Linked DNA regions of Homo sapiens. The protein of the gene in region 1 purifies or fractionates together with the protein of each later gene. This does not show direct contact. Each region holds a gene or a part of one and is shown on either strand. Other genes may lie near its edges. The genes, in order: CASP9, HPRT1, AKAP12 and RNPEP.

Evidence for each region.
Region 2: the proteins of CASP9 (region 1) and HPRT1 purify together in Homo sapiens (affinity purification with mass spectrometry; one large-scale study listed by BioGRID and IntAct). This does not show direct contact.
Region 3: the proteins of CASP9 (region 1) and AKAP12 purify together in Homo sapiens (affinity purification with mass spectrometry; one large-scale study listed by BioGRID and IntAct). This does not show direct contact.
Region 4: the proteins of CASP9 (region 1) and RNPEP purify together in Homo sapiens (affinity purification with mass spectrometry; one large-scale study listed by BioGRID and IntAct). This does not show direct contact.

The regions. Positions count from the first base shown.
Region 1 is NC_000001.11:15,498,219-15,506,066, reverse strand, and holds part of CASP9 (caspase-9 isoform alpha precursor), read left to right. Parts: coding exon 1-77; intron 78-1,308; coding exon 1,309-1,456; intron 1,457-7,848. UniProt on the Homo sapiens protein: Involved in the activation cascade of caspases responsible for apoptosis execution. Binding of caspase-9 to Apaf-1 leads to activation of the protease which then cleaves and activates effector caspases caspase-3 (CASP3) or caspase-7 (CASP7).
Region 2 is NC_000023.11:134,456,706-134,465,188, forward strand, and holds the start of HPRT1 (hypoxanthine-guanine phosphoribosyltransferase), read left to right. Parts: upstream 1-3,459; 5' UTR 3,460-3,606; coding exon 3,607-3,633; intron 3,634-8,483. UniProt on the Homo sapiens protein: Converts guanine to guanosine monophosphate, and hypoxanthine to inosine monophosphate. Transfers the 5-phosphoribosyl group from 5-phosphoribosylpyrophosphate onto the purine.
Region 3 is NC_000006.12:151,242,435-151,250,282, forward strand, and holds part of AKAP12 (A-kinase anchor protein 12), read left to right. Parts: intron 1-7,848. UniProt on the Homo sapiens protein: Anchoring protein that mediates the subcellular compartmentation of protein kinase A (PKA) and protein kinase C (PKC).
Region 4 is NC_000001.11:201,985,239-201,993,086, reverse strand, and holds part of RNPEP (aminopeptidase B), read right to left. Parts: intron 4,184-7,848; coding exon 4,043-4,183; intron 3,705-4,042; coding exon 3,556-3,704; intron 1-3,555. UniProt on the Homo sapiens protein: Exopeptidase which selectively removes arginine and/or lysine residues from the N-terminus of several peptide substrates including Arg(0)-Leu-enkephalin, Arg(0)-Met-enkephalin and Arg(-1)-Lys(0)-somatostatin-14.

The DNA.
Region 1 (7,848 bases):
CTTTGCTGGAGCTGGCGCAGCAGGACCACGGTGCTCTGGACTGCTGCGTGGTGGTCATTCTCTCTCACGGCTGTCAGGTAGGAAGCCTCCCACTGTTCCCTGGGCAGGCATTGGGTACTGGCCGTGCCAAGAGGCTGTGCAGGGGCCATGTCCCTTCTTGTGTCCAAAACACCCTTGGCTTTGTGGAAAAGGGCTGTGGGGCCCTGCCCACCTCCTGTTGTTTTCTTGGGAGCCATGTGGTCCTCTGAGGAGTTGGCTGCACCGTCCTGGGCAGGTCGGTGTTCCTGGGAGAAGCCCTCTGGGAGAGGGAGGGCAGAGACCAGGTCTGCTCACGAAGCTCCTGCACCCAGAGTTTGTTCAGAGGCGGGTACAGCACACATGTTGTCTCAGCTCCTGTCTCTGTCCTGTGAGGCACTGCCCCAGGCCCCTTGCTGCTGGTGGGACTCAGGACACCAGGCCCACTGGGGGCTTGGCCCCTTACGTATTTGTCACTGTGATTAAGCCCTTACCCCTTACTGGGCCTCAGTTTCCTCATCTTTTAAGTTGAGGAGTTGGACAGATCACAGTTATAAGCTGGGGCCTGGAGTCCCCCTGTGGTCTGCACGGTGTTTTGAAAACTGGCAAATTTCACATAAAAATCAGGATTTCTAGTTTCTCTTGACAAACCGCAAAGGTCTGGCCTGACGAGGCCAGCATCTTCAGCCAGTAAAACTCCAGCCTGTGGCTGGGCAGGGCTTTCCCTTTGGTCCTTTCTCTCATAATATGGTCCCTAGAGCTCATGAAGAATGTGGACTCCCAGGCCCTACCCTGGACCTCTTCATTCCAAGTCCGCCCAGCAACAAGGTTTCCAGGTGATTTCCATGCCCTTGAGGTCTGAGCTGAACTGATTTAAAGCAGCCACTCTCAGCGTTGAGCTGCCTCAGTCAGAGGGGCCTGGAGGACCATACTGCTGATTAGGAGGTCTGGGTGGGGCCCAGGAATCACATTTCTTACAAGTTCCCAAGCGATATTGATGCCGCTGCTGCAGGGGCCAAACTTTGAGAACCACTGGTCTAGAGGCCGCAGCCAGCACTCTCCAGGCACACTGGCCCCTAGAGGCACATGAGTTTGACATGCAACCCCTTGCTGTCAAGGTGTCTTTCCAGATGCTGACCAGGGTCTTTCCAGAACCAACCTGCTCTGTCTCAATCAGCCTCGTGCCCCTGGCTTTGACCTTCCAAATCCTTGGCTCCCACAAAACCTCTGAACAGGCTGTTGGATTCCTACTCCAACTTCTTGGTTTTGTAACCAGGGTTCTTGGTCTTCTAGGCCAGCCACCTGCAGTTCCCAGGGGCTGTCTACGGCACAGATGGATGCCCTGTGTCGGTCGAGAAGATTGTGAACATCTTCAATGGGACCAGCTGCCCCAGCCTGGGAGGGAAGCCCAAGCTCTTTTTCATCCAGGCCTGTGGTGGGGGTAAGCAGCTCCTCAGCCTCCCTCTGGGTGGGTCTGGTGGGGAGGGAGCCGCCACCTGCTTCTTTCTCCAGCCTGCCCCTCACAGGGCCCATGAGGTCTCTCCAGGCAGTCAGAGGGTACCACACATGGTCCCTTTTTGGCAGCACCTCTGTCTGGCTGGAGCAGGCCCTGCTCTGTCTGCTTTGTAGAGGTCAGAGTCTTCTGTTTCATGGCACAGTGGCATCATGGGCTCAAGTAACTTTGGCAGCTTCAATTCCAAAGACTTGGCAAAAAGAAAGCAGAAGAGAGAGGAGAAACCTCTTTTTATTTTTCTTGTCACCATTCTCCTGACCTCCATCAACTAGACCCCGTTTCCACTATCCCAGAGAAAGGGTGGCCACAGCTAAACTGCATGGAGAAACCAAAGAATTTAAATATTGGAATTTTCAAAAGTGTAGTTGTGGGGGTTCGAGGAACATTTAAAGATTACTTGGGCTGGGTGCAGTGTCTCATGCCCAACACTTTGGGAGGCCGAGGCAGGAGGATTGCTTGAGCCAGGAGTTCGAGACCAGCCTGGGCAACACAGCGAGACCCTGTCTCTATTTTTGTTTTGTTTTTTAAATGTATTACTTGGATTCTTTGTAGTTTTGCTGTATGCTCTAATTTTAAACTTAACTCCTATTACAGTGTTATCTGATTTTCTTATAAAAAAAGAGGGAAGAGAGACAAACATGGGGTTCCTAGTTTGTGGGTCATGACAGGAATATCAGGGAGCGCTAGAAATTCTGTCCCAGGGAGTCCCCTCTGCCCTAGGCTCTCCACGGACTGGAACATTCAGAAGGTATATCAGTTCCTTGCCTCCAGCCTGATCTGCCAGAGAAGTGAGCACTGTTATACCATAGCGCTGTCCAGCTCGTCCAGCTGTGACATGGGCACCTGTGGTCTATTTCTCCTGTGCACATCCAACTGCCCCATCCCTATTCCACGTTGGTGGAGTTGGGTGGAGGCTACCTAGGAGAGCAGTCTCTGGTCACATCATTCATCCAGTAAGTGTTTATTGAGCACCATCTGTATATACCAGGCTGTGCGTTAGGTGCTGGGGATAGGGGAAAAACAGAGTTTCAGTCTCCTGGAATTTATAATTTGACATGAACTGTATTAAGTCACTGTCATGACCCATGCCCATAACTTGACCACAAGTGATTGAGAACACTTGATTAACCCTGGATGGGCTACTGACCTATCTATCACACAGCCCTGGGCCAGTTCATCTCTAGACAGCTCAGCAAATGGGGAAAATAACAGAACCCACTCCCAAGCTCAGGTGATCCTCCCACCTCAGCCTCCTGAGTAGCTGGGGCTACAGGTGCACACTACCATGCCCAGCTAATTTTTCTATTTTTTTTTTGTAGAGACAGGGTTTTGCCATGTTGCCCAGGCTGGTCTTGAACTCCTGGGTTCAAGCAATCTGCTCACTTCGGCCTCCCAAAGTGCTGGGATTACAGGCGTGAGCCACTGTGCCCAGGCAACTTTAATAATATTTAATGCACTAATTGGTGTGTGTACAGTGATTGGTTCATTTTAATAACTGAAAACCCAGCCTGCCCCCCGCTCCCACCCCGGAGGACCCAGTGTCACATAAGAGTCCCCCACCCCGCTGTCGCCAGCAGAGTTCCCTCAGGACAACAGTAACAGGAAGTGAGGAAGGCTGCCACTCTCGGGGCTGTAGAAACCCTGCTCTGCCTCACCTCCTGTCTTATCCACAGTGTGTGGTCCAGCAATGCTCTTCCTTCGGAGCCTCCGGTCCCTCTTTCTCCTATGAATCAAATGAAAGACAGAAAGGGCAGGGGAATTAGGAATGCAGGCTGAGCAGGCATACCTACTTTCTGGACAGTTAGTCAGTCTTGTGCTCCTCCCATGCCCCATCCAGTCTCAGTCTCAACAGCAGGGAGGGCCTTTGTCACGTGAATATCTGCTGTCACTCTTAGGACTCAGTAGCAGGGCTTCCAAGGCCTTTGGTGACCTGGCCCCTGCCACTTCACCTTCCCCAGCCTGGCATGCTCCGAGTCCCCAGCACGGCCCAGCCTTCCCAGGATGTCCAGGCTCTTGCTTGCTCTTCTACCTGCTCCCCTGGCTAACTCTTTTTTTAAAATTCATTTTTACTTATTTTGTTTTAGAGATGGGGGTCTCACTATATTGCCCAGGCTAGTCTTGAACTGTTGGGTTCAAGTGATACTCCCACCTCCGCCTCCCAAAGTGCTGGGATAACAGGCATGAGCCACCGTGCCTGGCACCTGGCTGACTCTTAATCATCCATCCTTCTGGTTACAATTTATTGTCACTTCCCTAAACACCCCCTTTCTTGGCCAAAGTCAGGGTTAGCTGGCCTTTGTGCTCCTGCAGCCTCTGTCCCTCCCCTACCATAGCACTGTCTCATTGTATTGAGATGGGCTTATCCCCTGGTCAGCTCTGAGGGGAGGGCCAGGCCTACCCTGCAGCCAGGCCCCCAGCCTGGCACAGAGCCCACAGTCTGGTTGCGTCTCATGTGGATTCTAATTTGAATGTAAAGGAGAACCATACAAAAGCATCTGTGGTGGTTCACGCCTGTAATCCCAACAGTTTGGGAGGCCAAGGTGGGAGGATCTCTTGAGACGAGGAGTTTGAGACCAGTCTCTATCATAAAATTTAAAACATTAGCCAGGCCTGGTGGTGTGTGCCTATGGTCCCAGCTACTTGGGATGTTTAGGCAGGAAGATCGCTTGAGCCCTGGAGGTCGAGGCTACAGTGAGCCATGTTTACACTATTGCACTCCGGCCTGAGTGACAGAGCCAGTCTGTCACCTGTCTCTAAAAAAATAAAAAATAAAAAAAAAATATGAGCCAAATTTGGCATAATGTAGATTTCCATCATTAAAACAAAACTCACAGAAAACAGCAAGATTTCAAAGCCAGCATGCAGTGATTAAGATATCCCTTTGGAGTCGGGTCCTTGCTTTGCCTCCGCAGGCTGCGTGACCTGGTGCTTAACGCAGTTACCACATGGTGGCGCCACGTCAGCTGAGAGCAGAAATAGAAAGGTCCCCGTTCTTCACTAGTGCCTGGCGAGGGGTCTGTTTACATGCATCAGAACACCTGTCCTGGGTTTTGAGGACTCTTGTATTGCTATTTTATAACTCACTATAATACTTTAAAAATATTTAATTTAAAAATCATTTAATAATTAATTTAAATATAATAATAAATAATTTAAAAATCATTTTTAAATAATAATTTTAAAACCCTCCAACATGTCATCCACCCATTCATTAGGAGGTAACAGCACCAGGGCTGAAAAATGTGCATTAAAGTCGATAACTTTGGTGTGCAACGTCAGCGTGATAGGCAACCAAGTAGCCACCTCTCTGAGGCTGAGCCGTCAATTTTGGGGTGACCCCTCTTTGGGATTTGAGAGATCGGGCTGAGAAGACAGAAAGCAATGACAATATGCTGCAGTGGTCGTGGATTTTCTGTGCGGAGGGAACATCTCCTCCTACTGTATATTTATTCTTGTGGGGAATGAGTCCTGCCCTACGGGGAGTTTTGCATTAATGAGGCTCTCTAAGAACCGAGGCTCTCCAAGAACCAAGCCATGCATACAGTGCAGAACACCCTAGGCAAGGCCTTCACATCAGATTTGTGGGCTGAGGCTGACACGTGAACGGAGCTGCCTTAGCGCCCCGCCTGACCCCCTCTTTCCTTTCCCCCACACCCCCTGCTCTGATCTGCTGTCTCTTCTCAGCCTCTCTGCTCACCCTGTCTCTTCTGGCCATTCTTAACGGCATCCCCCACTTAGGCATCCCTCCGCCCCCACAGGCTGCCAGGCAGACCCAGCACCATCACATTCACGCCTCAGGCCTCCTTGCTGTGCTGTTTCACGTCATTCCCAGACACCTGGGGCAGATTCCGGAGTCTCTACCAAGAAAACAACCAGAAGCAATGAACCACAAAATCTGGAGAAAAACATGGCTGTCACAGATCAAAGAGGCCCCCCTTTGGAGGCTGGGGGCCTCCGTGAGAAGCAGTGGGATAGTTGAGAGGCAAAAAACATGGGGCAGAATTCCGCGCCCCTCATATCAGCTGGGAGAATGCCAATGACCAGTGGTTTCTGAGCTTTAGCTGTGTGGGGTAAGAGGTCAATAGATTTTGGTGTTACTATTATGGGGTTGCCAGAGCCACCTCTGTTCCTGCCAGATGGGCCCCCAGCTCCTCTGGGTGAACTGTGACTTCCCTCAGTCACATAGATCCAGCCATGCAAACCTGCCTGCGTTGCGGCCACAGCACTTGCTGTCTCTCTCACCAGGACCGTTCTCCCTGATGGCATCAGGGCCTGGATCACAGTCACATTCTCCAGGAGTGTTTTTGCAGGGGACCCTCTGGATCACTCCTACTCCAACTTCAGCCTATTTTTAAAAAAATTTCTCTTTTTTTTTCTGCAGTATGTATACATAGTTAAATATATATTTATATTTTTTAACCAAAGCTCTTGTTAGATGCCTTCTTTCCTGAGTAGCCCTCTGTGCTCCGCCTTACCCCACCCACCATGAGCCCTACTGCAGAAGACCTCATCCCGGAAGACCTCCGTCAGTGTCTCCACTTCAGTAGCTCTGTAGCTGAGCCATGTGGGGCACAAGTCCTGCCAGGACCTCTCTGTTTTCCAAGCTTGGCACTGCCTTTGGGGAGTCTAGATTTTAAAATGGAAAAGACAAAAAATATGGCAACCTAAAAAAGAAAATAATTCAGAATGTTATAAGCTAATACAGCCATCTCATTTTTGCATCTTCCTTTTGGATTCCAGCCCATGAGCACAGTCTGCTTTTCTCAGCTAACGTTATCCCTTAAGCAGTTCCCCAGATCTCCATGGCCTTCATCATCACTAGCTCAAATGGCTTTATAATGGGCCATTTTCATGACATGCACTAATTTACTAAACCATTTTCCTAATGTCGGCCATTTAGGTGATATCTAATTTTTGGCTCACACAACCACAGGTGTCTTCATATAGAAAGCTTTTGACTGCATTTGAATTATTTTCTTAGGAAATTACTGGATTAGAAGGTGTAAACATCTCCATGGATTTCATTATCCATGACTTGGTGTCTATTTGGTATTTTTCTGATGGCTTCTTTGATTCTAGAAAAGGATTTGCCATAGTGCAAGAAGTACAAATGATAACACTAGGACAAAATAGAGAGGGAACACAAGGAGAGAAGAAAAGTAAAAGTTTGGATTCCAAAAATACATCCTAGGATGTCCTGCAGCTTTCTACAGTTCTCTAATGTACAAGTGAATTAAAAATTTAAGGTATACAACGACTGATTTTAGAGATAAAATCACTTTGCAGATGTAAAGAAACATGGAAAAATCCCAGCCATTGGTAATAGTAGACTCAAAAATGAGGTAGGTCAAAGTCCCAGTCAGCCTCTGTCTGGGGGGAAACCCCTTAACTTATCTCAGTCTCAGTTGCCTAATTACATAAAATGGAATACTGATAGCTACTTGCTAGAGGTGGCCTGCGCATTTTTTACGCTTTCCAGCCGCCATTGGAAATAAGATCATTGGCCAGGGGCGGTGGCTCACGCCTGTCATCCCAGCACTTTGGGAGGCTGAGGCGGGCAGATCACGAGGTCAGGAGATCAAGACCATCCTGGCTAACACAGTGAAGCCCCATCTCTACAAATAATTAGCCAGGTGTGGTGGCACACGCCTGTAGTCCCAGCTACTTGGGAGGCTGAGACAGGAGAATCGCTTGAACCCAGGAGGCGAAGCTTGCAGTGAGCCATCGCGCCACTGCATTCCAGCCTGGATGACAGAGCGAGACTCTGTCTCAAAAAAAAAAAAAAAAAAAAAAAAAGATCACTTTCAAGATCCATGGAATCTGGTGTTCTATAGTTCTATATCTGGTATTTGCAAGACAGAAGTCAGGAATAGAGACTCCAGACACATTTCTTCCCTTGGTTGTCTTAAAGGGGACACTGTGATCTTGACAGCCTGAGTAAAGGGTTTGAGTGAGTGCCTATGATATAGTGGACAGTTTCCTCAACTATATTTCTAAAAAAAGACAAGTTTTATGTCTTTTTAAAAATTGTGGCAAAATACATATAACATAAAATTTACTATCTTAACCATTTTTTTGGGGTGATTGCTTGAGCTCAGGAGTTTGAGGCTGGAGCGAGTTAAGATCATGCCACTTCAATCTGGGCAACAGAGCAAAAGTGTGTCTCTTAAAAAAAAAAATGCCTGTAATCCCAGCACTTTGGGAGGCCAAGGCAGGCAGATTGCTTGAGCCCAGGAGTTTGAGACCAGCCCGGGCAACATGGCAAGATCCTGTCTCTACAAAAAATACAAAAATTAACTGGGTGTGGTGGCACCTGTAGT
Region 2 (8,483 bases), on another chromosome or scaffold:
TTGTGTTCAAACAAGTCGATTACAAAATTGTTTCTGGCTGGGTGCAGTGGTTCATGCCTGTAATCCCACCACTTTGGGAGGCCGAGGCAGGCGGATCACCTGAGGTCAGGAGTTCGAGACCAGCCTGATCAATATGGTGAAACCCTGTCTCTATTAAAGATACAAAAATTAGCCGGGTGTGGTGGCGTGCAACTGTAGTCCCAGCTATTCGGGAGGCTGAGAAAGGAGAATTGCTTGAACCTGGAAGGCAGAGGTTGCAGTGAGCTGAGATCACACCGCTGGACTCCAGCCTGGGTGACAGAGCAAGACTCCATCTCAAAAAAAAAAAAATTGTTTCTGGAAAGGCATCGGGAAGAGGAATCTTAGGTTACACTCATGCTTTCCTTATTTCTTCCTGCATGCAGATATTCCAGTAAAGAACAGTGACATACCTAGCATATAGGACGTCCAGAGTAGATAATTTTTTAACATTTTTCACCTCTATGACAAAATCATTTTCAATAATAATCATATAATAATTAGGAATAATTATTTTCTTGCTTTTGTCTGTAGTGGGAAAACAATATTTTAGAAGAATACATTTCCACTTTAAATATAATGTGGAAATTCAGTAAACCATTTCATATGTGAACCAGATTTTCACTTACCAAGAAAAAGTCTTACATCTTGCAGATTGCAGTGTTTGCTGTTTTCCATTTTAAATACAAATAAAAAGTCCAAATTGTCACACAGAATGACAAGATTGAAAGAACAGTACTGTTTCTTTGTTTTTACAATCATCTGGCTATCATTATTTGTTTCAAATCCACTATTAAAATACAGGAGTATCTGGTACTGCAGGATTTGGAGAAAGGAACTGCAAGCCAGAGGCAAGCTGGAAGGATTCTGAATTGTTGGGTACCTAATTTAGAAACAAATTTGAGTAGCTGAGACCACATGTGTCAGGGGACGAATATATAACCGGAAGTTCTCTGAATTAACTTCCTGATAGAACACAATGTTTGTTAAAAGGATAAGTAATGAAAATGTTCTAATATGAATTTCAAGTTCTATGCCAAATAGAAATGCATTCATATATTCACCAAAAGATATGTACAAAATGTTCATAGTAGCATTATTTCTAATAGCCCAAACCTGGAAACTGCCCAAATGTCCATCAACAGGGGAATGGATAAGAAGTCTTAGAGGCAGGCTGGGCGTGGTGGCTCACATCTGTAATCTCACCACTTTGGGAAGCCAAAATGGGCGGATCACCTGGGGTCAGGAGTTCAAGACCAGCCTGGCCAACATGGTGAAACCCCATTTTCTACTAAAAATACAAACATTAGCCAGGTCTGGTGTCACACGCCTGTAGTCCCAGCTACTCGGGAAGCTGAGGCAGGAGAATTGCTTGAACCCGGGAGGCAGAGGTTGCAGTGAGCTGAGATCATTCAACTGCACTCCAGCAGAGCAGCAGAGCGAGACTCTGTCTCAAAAAAAAAAAAAAAAGTCTTAGAGGCTAGAAGAAAGTGAACTGTTTAAGGCAAAATTATTATGGAACACGTAACATTGGTATCATCATGTATTGAGCCAAGCTCTATGCTAGGCACTTTTGCATATATTATTTTGTTTAATCTTCACCACACTCTGTGACAGAGATATTAACCTCATTTGACGTATAAGAAACCAAGCACGCAGGGACCAAGGATCTTGCCCAAAGTCAAAATGCTATAATAGTGGGGAACCCAGGATTTGAACTCAGTCCAAAGCCCATACATCCCTTTTCCATTACAGCCTGCTGCCTCTCCAGGATAAAGAGGGAAGACAGGGAAAGTAGGGAAGTATGGACTTCACAAATTCATACATGCTAAAATTATAACAGCTACTGTTTCTTGAGCACCTATTATGTGGCAAATACTATATGAGGTACTTTACATAAATGATTTTTAGAATTCTCGTAAAACTCTTCATGGCAGTAGTTATTATTCTCTCTCTCTCTCTTTTTCTTTTTTCTTGAGACAGGATATTTCTCTGTTGCCCAGGCTGGAGTGCAGTGGCACAGTCTTGGCTCACTGCAGCCTGGACCTCCTGGGCTCAAGCCATCCTCCCACCTCAGCCTCCCAAGTAGCTGGGGCTACAGGCACATGGCCACCAGGCCCAGATAATTTTTCATTTTTGTAGAGACTGAGTCTCACCATGTTACCCAGGTTTATTATTCTCATTTTTTAGATGAAGAGACTGAGGTCCAGAGAAGCTCAATGACTTGCCTAGTTTTACAAATCTCCTGCCATCACATACCCCTCAGCGTCCTTAATAAGAGGGAGGCCACCAACTATGTGCTGGGCACTGTGGTGGATGCTGGAGCTATAGGGTTGAGTATATAAGAAATGGTGTTGCTGGAGCAACTGTTGCTTGCTTACCTGACCTATCTGAGAATTAATTAGCAGGGGAACATATTTTTGTTTTCAGATTCAATATAAGAACTTGTGTGGGCAAAAATAAAGATCAGTAGTAATAACAGTAGTTCCCATTTGCTGACTGTACTGTCCTAAGTGCATATATATATACATACACACACGCATACCTATACTCCTCTAATACTCAAAATGATCCTGTTTATGTATTGTTAATATGCTCATTTTATTTTTAAATTTTTATTTATTTTTATTTTTATTTATTTTTGAGACGGAGTCTCATTCTGTCGCGGAGGCTGAAGTGCAGTGGTGCGATCTCAGCTCAGTGCGACCTCCGCCTCCCGGGTTCAAGTGATTCTCCTGCCTCAGCCTCCGGACTAGCTGGGATTACAGGCGCCCGCCTCCACGCCCAGCTAATTTTTGTATTTTTAGTAGAGATGGGGTTTCGCCATGTTGGCCAGGCTGGTCTCGTACTCCTGACCTTGAGTGATCCACCTGCCTCGGCCTCCCAAAGTGCTGGGATTACAGGCATGAGCCACCGCGCCGGGCTAATATGCTCATTTTAGTGAGGCAAAAATAGAGGCTCAGAGTCTGATTTGTACAAAACTACAGAGCAGTTAAGTGTCCTCTCAGATGTGTACCCTGATCTGGGTGACTCTAGGACTCTAGGTCTCAACTGTTACAACCAGTTAAGGGTTTGGGGAAGCACTGGGCCAAGAGTCAGGAAAATGGAAGCCACAGGTAGTGCAAGGTCTTGGGAATGGGACGTCTGGTCCAAGGATTCACGCGATGACTGGAACCCGAAGAGCCGGGGCCCGGTTTACGGCCGCCATGAAGCAACGCGCGCCGGTAGGTTTGGGAATCAGGGAGCCCTCTGAATAGGAGACTGAGTTGGGAGGGAAAGGGGCTTCGCTGGGGGAGCCTCGGCTTCTTCTGGGAGAAAATTCCCACGGCTACCTAGTGAGCCTGCAAACTGGTAGGCGCCGGCGTAGGCGCGCGGGCGGGGCCGGGGGCGGGGCCTGCGGGGCGTGGCGGGGCGGGCAGAGGGCGGGGCCTGCTTCTCCTCAGCTTCAGGCGGCTGCGACGAGCCCTCAGGCGAACCTCTCGGCTTTCCCGCGCGGCGCCGCCTCTTGCTGCGCCTCCGCCTCCTCCTCTGCTCCGCCACCGGCTTCCTCCTCCTGAGCAGTCAGCCCGCGCGCCGGCCGGCTCCGTTATGGCGACCCGCAGCCCTGGCGTCGTGGTGAGCAGCTCGGCCTGCCGGCCCTGGCCGGTTCAGGCCCACGCGGCAGGTGGCGGCCGGGCCCTGAGGCGCGGGATCCGCAGTGCGGGCTCGGGCGGCCGGGCCCAGGGAACCCCGCAGGCGGGGGCGGCCAGTTTCCCGGGTTCGGCTTTACGTCACGCGAGGGCGGCAGGGAGGACGGAATGGCGGGGTTTGGGGTGGGTCCCTCCTCGGGGGAGCCCTGGGAAAAGAGGACTGCGTGTGGGAAGAGAAGGTGGAAATGGCGTTTTGGTTGACATGTGCCGCCTGCGAGCGTGCTGCGGGGAGGGGCCGAGGGCAGATTCGGGAATGATGGCGCGGGGTGGGGGCGTGGGGGCTTTCTCGGGAGAGGCCCTTCCCTGGAAGTTTGGGGTGCGATGGTGAGGTTCTCGGGGCACCTCTGGAGGGGCCTCGGCACGGAAAGCGACCACCTGGGAGGGCGTGTGGGGACCAGGTTTTGCCTTTAGTTTTGCACACACTGTAGTTCATCTTTATGGAGATGCTCATGGCCTCATTGAAGCCCCACTACAGCTCTGGTAGCGGTAACCATGCGTATTTGACACACGAAGGAACTAGGGAAAAGGCATTAGGTCATTTCAAGCCGAAATTCACATGTGCTAGAATCCAGATTCCATGCTGACCGATGCCCCAGGATATAGAAAATGAGAATCTGGTCCTTACCTTCAAGAACATTCTTAACCGTAATCAGCCTCTGGTATCTTAGCTCCACCCTCACTGGTTTTTTCTTGTTTGTTGAACCGGCCAAGCTGCTGGCCTCCCTCCTCAACCGTTCTGATCATGCTTGCTAAAATAGTCAAAACCCCGGCCAGTTAAATATGCTTTAGCCTGCTTTATTATGATTATTTTTGTTGTTTTGGCAATGACCTGGTTACCTGTTGTTTCTCCCACTAAAACTTTTTAAGGGCAGGAATCACCGCCGTAACTCTAGCACTTAGCACAGTACTTGGCTTGTAAGAGGTCCTCGATGATGGTTTGTTGAATGAATACATTAAATAATTAACCACTTGAACCCTAAGAAAGAAGCGATTCTATTTCATATTAGGCATTGTAATGACTTAAGGTAAAGAGCAGTGCTATTAACGGAGTCTAACTGGGAATCCAGCTTGTTTGGGCTATTTACTAGTTGTGTGGCTGTGGGCAACTTACTTCACCTCTCTGGGCTTAAGTCATTTTATGTATATCTGAGGTGCTGGCTACCTCTTGGAGTTATTGAGAGGATTATAAGACAGTCTATGTGAATCAGCAACCCTTGCATGGCCCCTGGCGGGGAACAGTAATAATAGCCATCATCATGTTTACTTACATAGTCCTAATTAGTCTTCAAAACAGCCCTGTAGCAATGGTATGATTATTACCATTTTACAGATGAGGAACCTTTGAAGCCTCAGAGAGGCTAACAGACATACCCTAGGTCATACAGTTATTAAGAGAAGGAGCTCTGTCTCGAACCTAGCTCTCTCTCTCTCGAGTAATACCAGTTAAAAAATAGGCTACAAATAGGTACTCAAAAAAATGGTAGTGGCTGTTGTTTTTATTCAGTTGCTGAGGAAAAAATGTTGATTTTTCATCTCTAAACATCAACTTACTTAATTCTGCCAATTTCTTTTTTTTGAGACAGGGTCTCACTCTGTCACCTAGGATGGAGTGCAGTGGCACAATCACTGCTCACTGCAGCCTCGACTTCCCGGGCTCGGGTGATTCTCCCCAGGCTCAGGGGATTCTCCCACTTCAGCCTCCCAAGTAGCTGGGACTACAGGTGCGCACCACCATCCCTGGCTAATATTTGTACTTTATTTTATTTATTTATTTATTTATTTTTTGAGATGGAGTTTCGCTCTTGTTGCCCGGGCTGGAGTACAGTGGCATGATCTCGGCTCAGTGCAACCTCTGCCTCCCGGGTTCAAGCGATTCTCCTACCTCATCCCCCTGAGTAGCTGGGATTACAGGCGCCTGCCACCATGCCTGGCTAATTTTTTGTATTTTTAATAGAGACGAGGTTTCACCATGTTGGCCAGGCTACTCTCGAACTCCTGATCTCAGGTGATCCACCCGCCTTGGCCTCCCAAAGTGCTGGGATTACAGGCGTGAGCCACTGCGCCCGGCCTAATATTTGTATTTTTTGTAGAGATGGTGTTTTGCCATGTTGTCCAGGCTGGTCTTGAACTCCTGAGCTCAAGCGATCTGCCCGCCTCTGCTTCCCAAAGTGCTGGGATTACAGGCATGAGCCACCGTGCCTGGCCTAGGTAGACGCTTTTAGCTTTGGGGTGTGATGCCTGCCCCAGTATATAGTGAATTTAATTATTGCTAGAGCTGGCTGTTTGTTAGTTTTCTTTGAACATAAGATACTCATTGTTTTTAGTTTGCAAATCCCTCTTCCTTTTTAAAAAATTTCTTTCCCTTAAATTGTTTGCATGTTAGCAATAACAAATGCTTAAATGGTGCTATGTGCTAGATACTCTTCTAAGCCCTGTTATGTATATTAACTAATTTTTTAAATTACACAAATCAGAGAGGTTAAGTAACTTGCCCAAGATTACCCAACAATACTAGGATTTGAACCTAAGTTTGTCTCACCCCAGATTCTGCTCTTAATCTCTAAACTTTTAAGTTAGTAGTGACAATAGTAGGTATTTATTGAATACTTAACTATGTTTTAGGCGTTGAAGTAAATATTTTGCAGGCATTATCTAATGTAAACACCCTAAAGTTACATAACAGGTACCCTTTAGGTAAATAAACACTAGTATGACCTTGGAGGCACAGATAGTTGAAGTAACTTGCCCAATATCACTTACATGAAATTGGCCCTCAAATGTGTCTGATACAACCCATGCTGCTTGTAACTATCGTTTTAAACTGCCAGGGTAAACTTGGACACACTTGAGCTAAGAAAAAGCTTTTAGATTTTTGCAAATTAATGTGAAAGATATGCTTTATGTGGATATAATATCTTCTAAATTTCGGGGATGGTAGTCCTAGAAATGTAATCCTGCCCTAGCCGAGCTTACCCTGCCAATAATTTTTTACAGAATTGGTAAAACGGAGCACCTTTTTTTTGTCCTTGGCCACACTGTTATCAACAGGGTGTAGATTGACATCAATCTGTAGGTGTAAACCAGAATTACTCTTTGTGACCACCAGGAAATAGAGCAGTTCAGTTCAGGGGTTTCTTTCTGTGAATTTAGCACTGTGACCTGCATACTACAAGTCTACTTTGTTTTCTATCCATTGTTTGTATCTGGGTATTGCAAAAGGTAGGAAAAGGACCAACCAGATCAGCAGAGAAGAGTTGCCTTGGAGTTTTCTTTTAGTTTTCTGCAGTTCATTAGATAGTAACTAGGCCATGTCATTTTACTCCCTTGTAGTGAAGATATGTTGAAGTTGTACTGGTATACTCTTCTACCTTTCTGTAATTTTATATTGTGTAGACTTGATAAAATTTATGTGTCAATCACCACCATTAATATCAATATTGAGCCTCAATTCTTATTTTTCTGCCCAGTGGCTGCCAAATTACTAACATTTACAATAATTCACTACTACTAAGATAATCTACTAGTTCGATCACATACTTCAAATTGTTATGGAACTACTGTCTTCAGCATTGTGCTTCTGATAACTGATAAGTATAATTTTTTTTTTGTCCAGAGTGAACATGTCTATTCTTCCACTGTACACACTAATAAAAGGAAAAATTGTAATATTGGGTAAATTCATGTCCTTACACATGTAGTAGTTATGAGCCCATGTCCCTAGAATGAGTAATAATTTATCCCTCCCTTGGTTGAATAGTCAAGAATGCTGATTTTAATTCTTCTAACAGCTTTATCCCTCAGAAGGGAAGGCAAGCAAGTTATATATGTAGTTTATTTGTAAGACTGATATGAAATTGGAAGATGAATCTACTATTAGCTTTAATTATTTTTACATTTAGGAATATTGCATCAGTAACTCATAATTTTGGTTTTCTGTTATCCTGAGTTAACACAAATTATCCAAGGAGATGGCGGATCATCTGCTTTGAGGTGTTTTTTTTTGAGAATTTTAATGTATCTGAATATAAAAGGTAAAAATATGCCAACTAGCAATTTCTGCCCATTCCAGAAGTTTGGAAATATTACTCATTACTAGGAATTAAATAAAATATGGTTTATCTATTGTTATACCTCTTTTAATTCACATAGCTCATTTTTATCTTTTATTTTTGTTTGTTTTTTTTGAGATGGAGTCTTGCTCTGTCACCAGGCAGGAGTGCAGTGATGCAATCTCGGCTCACTCTAGCCACCGACTCCCTGGTTCAAGCGATTCTCCTGCCTGAGCCTTCTGAGTAGCTGGGATTACAGGCAGGCACCACCACGCCCAGCTAATTTTTGTAGAGACAGGATTTCACCGTGTTGGCCAGGATGGTCTCCATCTCCTGACCTCATGATCTGCCTGCTTCGGCCTCCCAAAGTGCTGGGATTACAGGTGGGAGCCACTACGCCTGGCCCACATAGCTCATTTTTAGACTCACTTCCATTAAGTCTTGTTTGGACCCACGAACATTGTCTTTTTTTTTTTAAGATGGAGTTTCACTTTTGTTGCCCAGACTGTAGTGCAATGGTGCAATCTCAGCTCACTGCAATCTCTGCCTCCTGGGTTCTAGCAATTCTCCTGCCTCAGCCTCCCGAGTAGCTGGAATTACAGGCGCCCGCCACCACGCCCAGCTAATTTTTGTGTTTTTAGTAGAGACGGGGTTTCACCATGTTGGGCAGGCCAGGGGTGATCCGCCCACCTCAGCCTCCCAAAGTGCTGGGATTACAGGTGTGAGC
Region 3 (7,848 bases), on another chromosome or scaffold:
AAATGACATCCAGAATATCATTGAACTTGTTGGCATAATGCCCAGTTATCAATTTGGAGACAAATCAGTGCACTTACATGTATCCTTGGAATGTATTTAGTTTTCATTTGAACTAGCCAAATTTATCACTCAGGCTTTGAACACAAATGTCTTTTCAAAAGGACTCCCCAATTAAGAATGACTCAGCACCATGGCCCTTGCCTCCCCTCTTCTTGTTAAGCTCCAATTCCTGACCTCCAAGTAATCCCATCTCCCACTCTAGGCTCCGTGGCACCATGGACCCGTCCCAGCAGTTTTCACATGTGTGGGTTTAGTGTTCTTGCTGTTGTGAATACTTCGCAGGGGCAGGGAACACGCCTGGTTGTGCCGACCAACGGTGTTCCTTCATGCGTGCCATGTTGCCTGGCACAGAGGCAGCTCTCAGGAATACTTGTGGAAAGAGGAAGGGGTGATATTGGCTCCTTGGTTTTGATTGGAAAATATCAAGTTGGAGAATACCTTGACCTATCTGATTTTACTACAATTTAACCCTTGATCATTTCATTATCACGTGAGACTGATTATGATAGTGACTAAGGCAAGTCAGTCTGTTCGGTTATTAATAGATCAAGTGAATAGTTTGACCAAAAACTTCAGATTTGGGGGCTTTGGATTCTGTTTCTCTAGATATAGAGTGACTTGTTAGCATTGCAATTTCAAATTGCGTTTTATCTTAAATAGACAAATATATGAAGTGCATATGGCTCAAATGAGTCCATTTCATACCCTGAGTTACTTAGGATTACATCTTGAACTTCCTTGATGTGTCTGTGGACGGTTGGGGAGGTTTAGGCTAATACATCATTTTTCCCTCCTTGGATAGAATGTGGTCATTAATTAAAGGTTGTAGGCAGATCTTTTTCTATCTAATAGCTGACATTTATATCACATGCATGCTATCTATTTAGCAATTGGATTTACTTTCCTTTTTTTCTGCTAGTTTTAGTTACCAGTTATTCACTAAGTGCCCTTATCTGAACAGACATTACACTGGTTGAATTATCACTTGTATTAGGTCAAATGGAGAGTTAAACAAGCTTTTGATTACTCAGGCTTAACGTTTAGATGCACTAAAGCAGAAGTCTTGGTTTTATCTATGGTTCATTTCTGTAAAATGGAAGGAGTCTTTATCTTCTATTCAATCTTTTGTAATCTTTATTTTTTCCGTTAGATCCAGAGATAGACTGGAAATCTTTTACAGTCTTTATATGTAAGATCCAGGCGGGGGCAGGGGGAATGGCTTGGTCTGTTATCTGCCAGGGTTTAATTTTGAGACATGGCCGTTTCACAACTGCAGGGTGCGGGAAGATTAGATGACCTGAATGCTGGTGGTAAGTAAAGCCTCACACTTCACATTATTCCTTAATTGTCTGTTTTTAAAAATTTGTCTTAAAAAAATATTAAGGTGGCAACATATTCAGGTGGCAACAGAGGGTGGGGTGACCAGTGACAAACTGACTTCCATGTCTCTGGCTAATCTTGATTTCTGGAGCCAGGCTCCAGACTAAGTCTGGACAATCAATTAATTAGCCTTTCTATATGTATTGCCTGATGAATGATTTCAATGCTGGACATTGAACAATGGTCTGTTGCAACAGGGTGAGGCCATTGTCTCTGGCAGGTGGGGAGATGGGGGCTCTTGTTAGCTCCATTTGATTACAAGAGCCTTGAATCACCAAAACATAAAGATGTACTCGAATAGAAGAGTCCGTTGTCTGACTGGTAAATTTAAGGATGTGTTTGACCCTCGTGCATTAAAACAGACAATTGGCCGGGTGCGGTGGCTCACGCCTGTAATCCCAGCACTTTGGGAGGCTGAGGCAGGCAGATCACAAAGTCAGGAGATCCAGACCATCCTGGCTAACACGGTGAAACCCCATCTCTACTAAAAATACAAAAAATTAGCCAGGCGTGGTGGCGGGCGCCTGTAGTCCCAGCCACTCGGGAGGCTGGGACAGGAGAATGGCGTGAACTCGGGAAGCGGAGTTTGCAATGAGCCGAGTTGGCGCCACTGCACTCCAATCTGGGCAACAGAGCGAGACTCTGTCTCAAAGAAACAAACAAACAAACAAACAAAACCAGACAATTGAGGCGGCCAGCTGCATTTCATAATTCCTCCCATAAGCTTCCTCCTATTTGCCACTTGTTTAGCAATGGAAATGGAGAACGAAGATGGCCTCAAAGTGACTACATCACCAGTGTTACAAAAATGGGCCAGAATTTAAGGCAAGAATTATATGTTTCTTAATAGAGGGATGTTTCTCTGTGTGTGGCTACTTGTATTCCTGTGGATTTTTACCAGATTATAAGAGCTGCTAATTTCTGATCAGAACAGAGACCAAAAATTGGAGATATGGATGTGGGGATGATTCTTTTGGGTACCGATAGACTGCAGGAATCGCAGGGCTTCCTTTAAATCCATTACAGCTTATAGGCTAGTGGATGAATAAGATAAGTGGAGATTTTCTCTTGAAATATTTCCTTCTATGAAGAAAAGGCCTTGAAATGTGCATCCTCTTTGGGTTGACTAATTTCTATGCCTTTACAGCTTTAAGCTGACATTATAAGATTATTCTAGTTTGGATCTTGTAAGATAATTAACAAAATGGAAATAAAATGTTTTGTTTTTAAAAATGCTAATAAATTATTTATTTTCCTTTGTCTTAGTTAGTTTTAATACATATTCAGTGCTTAAAGAACACCAGTGCAGGAAAACTCAAACTAAATGGCATCATCCCCCATCTCTATAATTCTATATGCAGTAGCCATTCATGCGAAGTTAGAAATTAGAATTTATAGCACTAAGCATTCTAAGAAAAATTAAGCCAGTACGTTTATCTCTTGAAAAAAAAAAAAGCAACTAAATTTCCTTGAACCGAATTCTTTTTTTTGGCTCACTGCAACCTTTGCCTCCCAGGTTCAAGCGATTCTCCTGCCTCAGCTTTCCGAGTCGCTGGGATTACAGGCACCCACCACCACGCCCAGCTAAGTTTCTGTATTTTTAGTAGAGATGGGGTTTCACCATGTTGGCCAGGCTGGTCTCAAACTCCTGACCTCGTGATCCACCCGGCTAAGGCAGGAGAATGGCGTGAACCCGGGAGGTGGAGCTTGCAGGGAGCCGAGATGGCACCACTGCAGTCACCACTGCAGTCCAGCCTGGGCGACAGAGAGAGACTCCGTCTCAAAAAAAAAAAAAAAAAAAATCAAAAGCATGTGTTTACCCTTATTAATGATTTTTATTTAAAGTCATTGCATAGCAATATTCATTTAATGTTTATTTTTTAAAAAAATTAATGATTGAGAACTTAAATTTATAAGTAGGGTAAATTACTCACAAATTTAAGTAAAATTTGAAGCCAATATGATGGCTTCTTACATATTCTTTCGAAAACTTCATGCACATGAAAGTAGATAAAAATGGCACAGTCTTTTCCATTTAAGAAAAAGATCATATCACATATAGATTTAGGTTTTGGATGTCTTTTCATATCAGGACATAAATAACTGCCCCCATTCTTATTAATTTGGGTGCATAAATTTCCCTTTTGTGGGTTGAAGCCCTGTAACGATTTAACCAATTCCTTGGGTTTATATTTAGATTGTCCTCGTCCATAAGTGTAATTGCTGAATTGCAAGCTTTATATGCATTTAAAAATTTAACCCGGCAAGGTGCGGTGGCTCACGCCTGTAATCCCAGCACTTTGGGAGGCCGAGGCAGGTGAATCACAAGGTCAGGAGTTCGAGACCAGCCTGGCCAACATGGCGAAACCTCGTCTCTACTAAAAACACAAAAAATTAGCTGGGTGTGGTGGCAGGTGCCTGTAATCCCAGCTACTTGGGAAGCTGAGGCAGGAGAATCTCTTGAACCTGGGAGGGGGAGGTTGCAGTGAGCTGAGATCTCACCACTGCATTCCAGCCTGGGTGACAGTGCAAGACTCCGTCTCAAAAACAAAAACAAAAACAAAAACAAAAAATTTAACCCTTCCTAAATTGACTTTCCAAAGAGGTTCTACCACTTTGCAGTTCCACCGTGGAGATCAGCACTCGTTTTCCCATGCTTTGCCTTCATGGGTATCAGATTTTCCAATACTTGCCAATGTGCTAGGTGAAGAATGGTACCTCAGTTTCCTTGGTGCATTTTTAACTGTGAAGTTGAATGCCTCATCATGTTTCTCTGCCATGTGCTTGCCATCTGATCATGCACTGGTCTGGCTGTCAGAGCATGAAAGGCTATGGTTTGTTTCACTGTTAATTAATTTTCATTTTCATTTTCATTTAACTTTAATTTTATTTATTTATTGTTTTTGAGATAGGCTCTCATTCTGTTGCCCAGTGTGGAATGCAGTGGTGCAATCTTGGTTTACTGCAGCCTCGACCTCCTGGGCTCAAATGACCCTCCTACTTCAGCCTCCTGAGTAGCTGGGACTACAGGCACACACCACCAGGTAGCTGGGACTACAAGTGCACACCACCATGCCTGGCTAATTTTGTTTATTTTTGGTAGAGACAAGGTCTCACTGTGTTGCCCAGGCTGGTCTGGACCTCCTGGACTGAAGTGATCCTCCCACCTCTGCCTCCCAAAGTGCTGAGATTACAGGTGTGAGCCCCCATGCCCTGCCCAATTAATTTTTAAAGATTTTTTTTTCTAGCCAGGTGTGGGGGCTCACACCTGTAATCTCAGCACTTTGAGAGGCCAAGAAGGGAGGATCACTTGAGAGAAAGTTCAAGAGTGGCCTGGGCAACATAGCAAGACCCCATCTCTACAAAAAATAAAAAATTTAGCTGGGTGCGGTGACGTGTACCTGTAGTCCTAGCTACTTGGAAGGCTGAGGTGAGAGGATTGCTTCCACCCAGGAGTATGAGGCTGCAGTGAGCTATGATCATGCTACTGCACTACAGCCTGGGTGGCAGAGCAAGACCCTATCTCTATTTAAAAAAACAAAACAAAACAAAAAAACAAAAAAACTTTTTCCCCAGAAATTAATCAAATTGGAAAAAAGCAAGTTCAAGAATAAAAACGCAGCTGAGGTAGAGCAGTCTTACTCTCCTTTGCTCCTTTTCCTTTCCAAATTAATGAACCATCTTTAAATTTATTTGCTTGGAGGATGACCTACTTCTTTAGCTATCACTTTTAAAATTTCTTCTCTTGGAACAATCTAAAATCATTTAGTTGCCAGAAATTACTTTGTGGTCATGATCCGTGAAATGTTGAGATCAGGGATTGGAAGCAGCAGAAATCCACCTCTTGGGAAAACAATAGAGTGAAGGCTTACCCGGGATCCTCTCCCGTTCTCACGGCAAACAGCCTGGCTCTGTTAACTGGATGGTATACATGGATTTTCTGAGAAAAATGTAGGTGTTCAAAGCACAGGAAACCATCTGGGACACCGGGACACCATTAGGCACCTCTTAATACAAGTATTCATTTCAGGTTCAAAGCTTTTTGTCTTCCCTGTGATTTCTCTGTGATGTTTTTTAAATGGGGGAAACCCTGTAGTTTCTCTCTGCCTAATCTTAATCCCAGTTGTAGTAGCATGTCAGTTTCATGTTTGATTTCAAAACGAAATAAACCAAAATTTAAGAAGGAGAGATTACTGCAGTTTATTGGCTGACCATCTATTTGTTATATGCAAATACTGCAAACTGGGAGTATTGAAGGATTAAATTTTTCCTAATTCCCAAACCTGGTGGTGCTATTGAATCACCTAGAGAGCTTTTCAAAGACACCCCTACACCTCATCCTGGATTTATTGAATTAGAATCCCAGGCAATCTCAGGGTCTGGGATTCTGTGATTTTTTTTTTTTTTTTTGAGAGACAGGGTCTCACTGTGTTTCCCAGGCTAGTCTTGAACTCCCGGACTCAGGCCATCCTTTGGCCTCAGCCTCCTGAGTAACTGAGACTACCAGCTCCTGCCACTGTGCTGGGATTCTGTAGTCTTAAAATGCTCATCAGATATTCTAATGTGTGGGGTGTGGGCTCCATTACCTTAAGGGAGGGGAAGGAGTAGGCGTAAGAGCTGAATAAGGGCCAGGGAGAGGTTCAGGTCTAGGTGACACTGGGTGATAGCATGTGCAGATTTCACTGAGATTGGAACTTGTGTGGGTGAGAGGGACGGTTTCACATGATGAAAGAGTAGCATTTTCCTTCACACATCTGGAGGATAAAATAAAGGAAAATATTTCTTCCACATAATTTCATTCCTTTGTTTGACTATATTAAAAAGTGGGTTGCTGGCCGGGCATGGTGGCTCACGCCTGTAATCCCAGCACTTTGGGAGGCCGAGGCGGGCGGATCACGAGGTCAGCAGTTCAAGACCAGCCTGGCCAACATGGTGAAACCCCATCTCTATTAAAAATACAAAAATTAGCCAGTATGGTGGTGTGTACCTGTAATCCCAGCTACTCGGGAGGCTGAGGCAGGAGAATCGCTTGAACCTAGGAGGTGGAGGTTGCAGTGAGCCGAGACCGCATCATTGCACTCCAGCCTGGGCGACAGAGCAAGACTCTGTCTCAAAAAAAAAAAAGTGGATTGCTAACGGAGGCTTTTTAAAATAGATTGTGCCATTCAAGGTAAGTAGGTGTTCAGTGAAATGCCCGTATCCCTACTGAGCCAGAAGCTGTGACTTTTCGGTGTTCCCCTTCCATCTCATTGCCTCCTAAGCCCTCTTCCCTTATTTATCATTTTAAAACTTCCCTTGTGCTGAATAAGTAGACAGTAGCTAAGGGCTTAGTTTATGGCATTTGACTGGTCCAAAAATCTGTAAAGAAATTTTAAAACCTACCAAGTTGTTGAAGAATAGAGTTCTGGCTTTCTCAGCCACTTACTATTCAATCTTGATTTCATAAATATTTCTGTTTTAATTTCTTCCATTTATTTTTTAATATAATAGAGACAAGGTCTCACTGTGTTGCCAAGGCTGGTCTCGAACTCCTGAGCTCAAGTGATCCTCTTGCCTTGGCCTCCCAAAGTGCTGGGTTACAGGGTGAGCCACCTACGCCTGGCCATTTCATAAATACTTCTTTACTAGCTTCTGTACTCCAGGAACTGTGCTAGGAACTGGGGAAACAGAAGTTCAGTTCTAAAAAAGTTAAAGTTCTCTCTTTCATATATTTAGATCTTTATTCCACTAGCTACTGATGATGTCTAGAAGGAGAAATCTTAAATTCATTTTTATATGGGTTACCTATTGCTCCAGTACCATTGATTAAAAAGTTACCTCTTGTTAAAACTCAAGTTTCCATATATGCATAAACCTGTTTATTGATTTCCTTTTACTTTTAAATTTTTTCTGCTGTGTCTATTTGTGCAATAAACTGAAAGCATTGTGGGAGTGGCTAAACATCTGATCAATTATAATAGCAAGCCCATGGTTTAAAATAGTTTTATATTCTACATCTCAAGTGTTACCCTTGTCTCTTTCATGGCTATGGTGAGTTCATACATACATAAATACCAACATGTGGCTCGTGGGCATGGTGGCTCACACCTGGTGGGCATGGTGGCTCATGCCTATAATCCCAGCACTTCGGGAGGTGAGGGTGGGAGGATCACTTGAGCCTAGGAGTTCAAGATCAGCCTAGGCAGCATAGTGAGACCCCACTGCTACAAAAAATTTAAAAATTAGCCGGGTGTGGTGGCACATGCCTGTAATTCCAGCTAGTTGGGAGGCTGAGGTGGGAAGATCACTAGAGCCCGGGAAGTTGAAGCTGCAGAGACCCTGTCTCAAAAAAATAAATAAATAGGCTGGGCGTTGTGGCTCACGCGTGTAATCCCAGCATTTGGGAGGCTGAGGCAGGTGGATCATTTG
Region 4 (7,848 bases), about 190 Mb from region 1:
ATATCTGATGAATTTAATATTCTCAATAAAACAGGAGACAAGACCTTCTGCTTAAATGAGGGGATGGGATTGGATAGCAAACTTAAAGAGAAGAGTAAAGTCTTAGAACAGCTTAAAGGGAGTGAGATGGAAAGGTAAATAAGAGGACTGTTGAACAACCTTGAAAGCACACCTGCAGTTGAAGACTGTACATCTGTTACATTTTTCTGGAAAACCCCACACATGTCTATTTCAACTTTCCTTTAATTCCAACTTTTCACGAAGAATTGAGAAAGGTGTAGTGGTTATTACTGTGTAGTTTCACTATTTTCTACATCTCCCAAATACCCACTTATAGAAGTAGAGAAAAGGAATTGTATAACAAGGGACTGGGACATTATAGCAGCGGGAAGTGGGCAAGGGGCTTTGGGGTGTTGGTAAGAGGTAACCAACCACACACTTGGGCCAGGGAGGGAAGCCCAGTCAGGAGGGTCTTGACTGCCCAGGAGAAATGAGTGGCTTGCCGGAAGGGAGGCTGCCATGAGCTCAAGGAGGAGACATGGTGGAATATAGTGGGAGAGAGGCCGTCAGAGAGCTGGAAGGTTAGCAGAGTCAGGATGAATGAGGACAAGGGGCTCAAGGGCCTTAAAAGTTCAGATATGGTACAGTTCATGACAATGACGATGTCTAGGCTCTAGACTCCAGAGCATGGGTGTGAATATGGGTGGCTGACAGAGTGGAGAAGGCTCCCTGAGTAGAGGTCAAGAAACCCTGAAGGTTGGTGTTGTGGCTCATGCCTGCAATCCCAACACTTTGGGAGGCCGAGGTGGGAGGATCTCTTGAGCCCAGGAGTTCAAGATCAGCCTGGACAACATAGCAAGACCTTGCTCCTGCAGAAAATAAATAAAATTAACTGGGCATGGTGACAGAGTAGCTGTGGTCCCAGCTACTCTGGAGACTGAAGTGGGAGGACTGCTTGAGCCTGGTAGCTTGAGGTTCAATGGGCTGTTATTGTGCCACTGCATTCCAGCCTGGGCAAGAGAGCGAGGCAAGAAAAGAAAGAAAGAGGGAGGGAGGGAGGGAGGGAGAAAGGCACAAGAAACCCTGCAGCCACCCTCAACCCTGGGTGTTAGGAGAGAAAAGTCGCCAAAGATGATGTGACAGGAAACCAGACAGAAAAAGATCATGGGACGGCAGTCAGTATCTTCAAGGAATTACTTTGTGAATTGTTCTACCACCACCTTGGATGTCAAAATTACCACAGTCCTTCAGCCCAGTGGACTTCAGCTTGTTACAACTAGAAGGTTTAAGACAGTCATCCAAGATACCTCCACCAGGACACACATTTCTGTCAAAATAAATCAGGATGCTCTCAGTCAAGCTGCAATCTCACTACCTGTAGTATATTGCAAAGAGCACTGGATTTGCAATGGAAATACCTGAATTTTAATTCCAGTTTTGCCAACTAGTGGTCCTGCACAAGCCACTCACCACAGCCTTGGTTTGCTTATTTTTAAAATGTAGAAAGTATCATCCTCATGGAGTCTGTGTAAGGATTAGAAGAGATTATACATAAAAGGGCCTACTGGGATATACCCATAATTCCCCTCTGCCCAGGATTTTCCTCTTGCAGTAACAGGGACTGGGATAGGTGGCATACCTTGCCAGAAGACCCTCCGATTTAATAAACCCCCACGGCCCGGCGTGGTGGCTCATGCCTGTAATCGAGCACTTTGGGAGGCCGAGGTGGATGGATCACGAGGTCAGGAGTTCAAGACTAGCCTGGCCAACATAGTGAAACCCTGTCTCTATTAAAAATATGAAAATTAGCCAGAAATGGTGGCACACACCTGTAGTCCCAGCTACTTGGGAGGCTGAGGCAGGAGAATCACTTGAACCCAGGAGGCGGAGGTTGTGGTGAGCCAAGATCGCGCCACTGCACTCCAGCCTGGGCAACAGAGCAAGACGCCATCTCAAAAATAATAAATAAATAACCCCCCACAAGACCCTACGATGTGACCCAGGAGGCAAGAACTGTCCATTTAATCACGGAAGGAATAAGGCATTACCACCAGTTAAGTGGATTCTGTCACCTAGTTCGATATACCATGTTGTCATTTTATTACAGGCAGTATAAAAAGAAATCATTATCACTCAGTATCTTTAGAATCTATTGTTCTCTCATTTCCCATTAATAGTTCATACTCTTACAAGTAGAACCTTAGTAAGGGTATTCTTGGAAACGACGTTCCTTTACTTATCTACTTGCTTGTCTATTGCAAAGATGACATCCTTTTGGTTATTTCCCGCCCTGCCTATTAGGAAGACAGCCCTTCGTAAGAGGAGGGCACTTTGTCTTTCCAGACTGGTATTGTTTTGAATGTGTGCGCTGGGAGCAGATGCCAATGGAATCCCATTTATTATTCCAACTGATAACCAGAAACTAAGACTCATGATACCAGCAGTGCCACTGAGCCCAGTTATGAAGTCTGAGGCTCGTAACTAATGTTGTCAAGGACACCACTGCCTCTAGGAACTGGGAGCAGGGCCAGAGATAAAGAACAGCAACAGTGCCAGGAAAAGGTCACGGCTTCACCGTCCAGCCTGTGATGCTCCCACATTGGGACTAAGCTATGGTGGAGGTAATATGAGAGCCAGGAAAAACCTATACTCCTGGTCAAACCTCTTTTATCAGGAAACCTTACAAAATCCCTTTTTATCTTCACAAGATCCATGTAACTTCACGGAGGCATTGCTCTCACCGTAGGCTTAGACTCATGCATCTGCTGCAGATAGGAAGGAGAGTCCACTTCCCTCTTCGAGGGAAATGATACCAAAGTTGTTATTTCCAGGAACTACGTGCAAAAGAAAATGGGGAAGATTTGGTACAAAGATAGGAAAGTGGATATAGCTGCTAGAAGGGCATTTAGAACTTAAAGATATTAATAAAGATCCATTTCCCAGGCCGGGCATGATGGCTCATGCCTGTAATCCCAGCACTTTGGGAGGCCAAGGCGGGTGAATCACCTGAGGTCAGGAGTTCAAGAGCAGCCTGGCCAACATGGTGAAACCCCGTCTCTACGAAAAATACAAAAATTAGCCGAGCGTGGTGGGGCATGCCTGCAGTCCCAGTTACTTGGGAGGCTGGGGCAGGAGAATCGCTTGAACCCAGGAGGCAGAGGTTGCAGTGAGCCAAGATCGCACCATTGCACTCCAGTCCAGCCTGGGCAACACAGCAAGACTCCATCTCAAAAAAAAAAAAAAATCCATTTCCCAAAACTGCAGCCTAAATTCCAACATCCCTCTGTAAGGCAGCCCAGGACAGCGCTACTGCTAGCAGGGATGATGATCTCATTCCAGGCAGCAGGATTAGAACTGGAGAGAGGGAGTGAGAAAGGCAGGGAGAAAAAGAGCACTTCCTCCAGCTGTGCTCATGCTGCATGAGCTGCAGAAAGGCTCTGGACTCAGACAGAGGATCCAAGACTGCCCAAGAACCCCCCCAGCAGGTCCACTGGTCAGAGTCCTCCTCACCTCTGAGGCCAATCCAACCTTGCCTGTGGGGTCTTTGTCTCCTACCTGGGTCCAACTTCAGCCGAAACCAGATCTCCGATGGCCAAAGCTATCAGATAGGAGGGGATGGGCTGACACATCTGGAAGAAGAACTTATTTGGACCTCTCTTCTCCCAGGTGCTAGCACTCATCACAGCTGTGAAGCCATCTGGGACCTGACAACAGAGAAAGCTTAGGAGATTTTACCTGGAGAGAGTTTCCTTTTGATTAGTTTGAATAAGAGCATGACCGGCCACCTGTGTGTGATGATAATGGCCTGGAGTCTATCTTGGAGAACACAAAGGTTTCAAGAAACTAAATCTGTGCTCAACTGATGGGATTTAGAGGAAGGCTACATACAACTTCAGTAGGTGGAAGAATTTAAAAGTAAGCAATTTTTCAGAAGTACCACTGAATGGATATAATAATTTACCACTGAAACGTGACCTGATTGATAGATCTGAAATCATTTCTTCATCCCAAGGGCAGGTGCACCTAACCTTAGTCTCCTTACCTCAATAAGAGCTGAATACTTGTATTTAACAGCAGGCGTGTCGAAGCAAGGGAAGAAGGCCCGGTTTAGGACAGCCTGGCCCTGGGTGTACACGAAGGGCTTCTTCTTTCCTGCTGTCTGCTCGGGAGCCAACCAGCAAACCTAAGCGAAAAGAAGAACATTTCAGAACTGACATCTCCCACACGAGCTCAGTCTGGCCAGAGAAGTGAGCTGGCTGGAATGAGAGAATTTTAGGTAATCCTTAAAACCTTTCCGCCAGCCAGTCTGGTTTGAACTAGAAAGCTCTCTCCTCTGTGTATTTAGTTCATCCTGGAATCCATGCCAAAGTATGACATCCACTTCACAGGGCAGAGCCACCAGAAAGGGTCCATTCCTCACTGCATCCCATGGGTCATCTCAGAGACCTTGGACCGAGCCTCTGATCTTGTCATCTGTACCCTATCTGTGTCCTTTTCACTGTAGTAGTTTCTCATCAAACAAAAAACTACTGAAGCAACTGCATTTGGACTTGTGATAAGACACAGAAAAGCAGAACTCAACTGGGAGTCAGTGATTAATATGTTTTTTTTTTTTTTTTTTTTTTTTTTGAGACAGAGTATCGCTCTGTCGCCCAGGCTGGAGTACAGTGGTGCAATCTCGGCTCACTGCAACCTCGACCTCCCAGGTTCAAGCAATTCTCATGCCTCAGCCTCCCAAGTAGCTGGGACCACAGGCGCGTGCACCACCAAGTCCAGCTAATTTTTGTATTGTAAAGATAGGGTTTCACCATGTTGGCCAGGCTGGTCTCCAACTCCTGGCCTCAAGCAACCCGCCCACCTCAGTCTCCCAAAGTGCTGGGAATACAGGCATAAGCCATCATGCTCAGCCTAATATACATTCTCTTTTCTTTTCTTTTTTTTTTTTCGAGATAGAGTTTCACTCTTGTCGCCCAGGCTGGAGTGCAATGGTGTGATCTCAGCTCACTGCAGTCTCCGCCTCCTGGGTTCAAGCGAGTCTCCTGCCTCAGCCTCCCAAGTAGCTGGGATTATAGGCATGCACCACCACATCCGACTAATTTTGTATTTTTAGTAGAGACGGGGTTTCATCATGTTGGTCAGGCTGGTCTTGAACTCCTGACCTCAGGTGATCTGCCCGCCTCAGCTTCCCAAAGTGCTGGGATTACAGGCATGAGCCACTGCACCTGGCCTAATATGTGTTTTCTGTTCCTAAAATTTACCTTTTCAGAAGAAAGGTATTTTATATAATAGGCACTGGTTATATGATTCTTTATCTGTGTTCTGTTAGCTCTTAAACAAAGGGCAAATCTGGGTTGGGTGCAGTGGCTCACGCCTGTAATCCCAGCACTTTGGGAGTCCGACGCAGGTGGATCACTTGAGGTCAGGCGTTCGTGACCTGCCTGGATAACATGGTAAAACCCTGTTGCTACTAAAAATACAAAAATTAGCCGGGTGTGATGGCATGCACCTGTAATTCTAGCTACTCAGGAGGCTGAGGCAGGAGAATTGCTTGAACCCAGGAGGCAGATGTTGCAGTGAGCTGAGATCATGCCACTGCACTCCAGCCTGGGTGACAGAGCGAGACTCTGCCTCAAAAAAAAAAAAAAAAAAAAAAAAAAAGTAAAATCTGAATGATTTATCACAAAACCCAGTTTTTGCCTATAGCAAACAGCCATTCATTTACCTGGAAGAGGGGCAGGATGGAGCATAGGTCAGTAACAAATAGCATTTAGAATTTAGAAATGGATTCGATTACTCCAGGATGATTTCATAGGGGAAGAAAACTTTCTGGCTGGACCTTCAAAGACACGCAGGATTGAGATGGCTGGAAAGGAAGGGAGGAGACATTCACAAGGAGACGAGCAGCAACATGAGGAGAGGCATAAACAGATGCAGGCTCCAGATGCAGAGTTGGGGAGGCAGGCCTGGGCAAGTCTAATGAAGGGTTCTGAACACAGCAGTGTCTGAGACCTATTTTAAGAGGCATAAGGAAGCTACGTTGGGATGCTGGGTTTGAGTTTTTGTGTGTGAAAAATTTAATTAGTCTCCTTATAACAGGTACAGTGCAGTATAGAAAGGGATGAGAGAATAACTTCACAGTGGAGAAAGCTGATAATCACTGCTTCAGCCAGGGGACCGAGGTTAACGCTGACAGTCATAAATCATGTGGATACTATGCGCCCTCAATACCTGATGAAAATGGCACTTTGGCTGGGCGCAGTGGCTCACACCTGTAATCCCAGCACTTTGGGAGGCCGAGGCTGGTGGATCACCTGAGGTCGGGAGTTCAAGACCAGCCTGGCCAACACAGTGAAACCCTGTGTCTACTAAAAATACAAAAATTAACCAGGGTGGTGGCATATGCCTATAGTCCCAGCTACTTCGGAGGCTGAGGGAGGAGAATCGCTTGAACCAGGGAGGCGGAGGTTGCAGTGAGCCGAGATCACACCACTGCAGTCCAGCCTGGGTAACAAGAGTGAAACTCCATTTCAAGAAAAAAAAAAAAAAAAAAGAAAGAAAATGGCACTTTACCTCTGTGAATTGCCCCTCAAAACCCATAATCCCAATCTAATCATGAGAAAACATCAGATAAATTCCAATACAGGGTCATCCTACGCTATACCTGGCCAACACTCCTCAAAACTGTCAAGGTTGGCTGGGCTCAGTGGCTCACACCTGTAATGCCAGCACTTCGGGAGGTCAAGGCAGGAGGATCGCTTGAGGCCAGGAGTTTGAGACCAGCCTGGGCAACATAGGGGGACCCTGTCTCTACAGAAAAAATAAAAATAAAAAAATAAAAAACAAAAAACTGGCTGGGAGCAGTGGCTCATGCCTGTAATTCTAGCACTTTCTTTGGGAGGCCAAGATGGGAGAATTGTTTGTTTGAGCCCAAGCGTTTGAGACAAGCCTGGATAACACAGTGAGACCTCATCTCTACAAATAATAAATTCAAAAAATTAGCTGGGCGCAGTTGTATGCGCCTGTAGTCCCAGCTACTTGGGCTGAGGCAGGAGGATCACTTGAACCAGGGGGATCAAGGCTGCAGTGAGCCATGATTGTGCCACTCACTGCACTACGGCCTGGATGACAGAGCAAGACCCTGTCTCAAAAAACAAACAAACTGTCAAAGTTATATCAAAAACAAGGAAAGTTTGAGAAACTGTCACAGTCCCAAGAGGATACATGACAGCTAAATATAATGTGGAATTCTGGATGGCTTCCTGGAACAGAAAAAGACATTAAGTAAAAACTAAGGGAATCTGAAAAAACTATGGACTCCAGTATCGGTACTGGTTTATTAATTATAACAAATATATTATTATACTAATGTAAAATGATTCAATCTTGGTTAATAATATATCAGCATTGTTTAATTGTAACAAATGTGTCATACTAATGCAAAATGGTAGCAAGAGGGGAATCTGTGTGTATATGTGTATGTAGGAGGTACTGAACTGTATATGGGAACTCTCTGAACTGGCTGCTCAATTAAGCCAGGCATGTTGGCTCATGCTTGTAGTCCCAGCACTTTGGGATGCCAAAGCGGGCAGATGGCTTGAACCCAGGAGTTCAAGACCAGCGTGGGCAACATGGCAAAACCCCATCTCTACAAAAAATAACAAAAATTAGCCAAGTGTGGAGGTGGCAGGTCTGTGGTTGGTCCCAGCTACCCCAGCTACTCAGGAGGCTAAGGTGGGAGGATCACTTGAGCCAGGGAGGTCAAGGCTGCAGTGAGCTGAGATGGTGCCACTATACCAGTCAATAAGAATTGATCAATTGACTGATCATTGAATGCCATCAGTCAGTGAT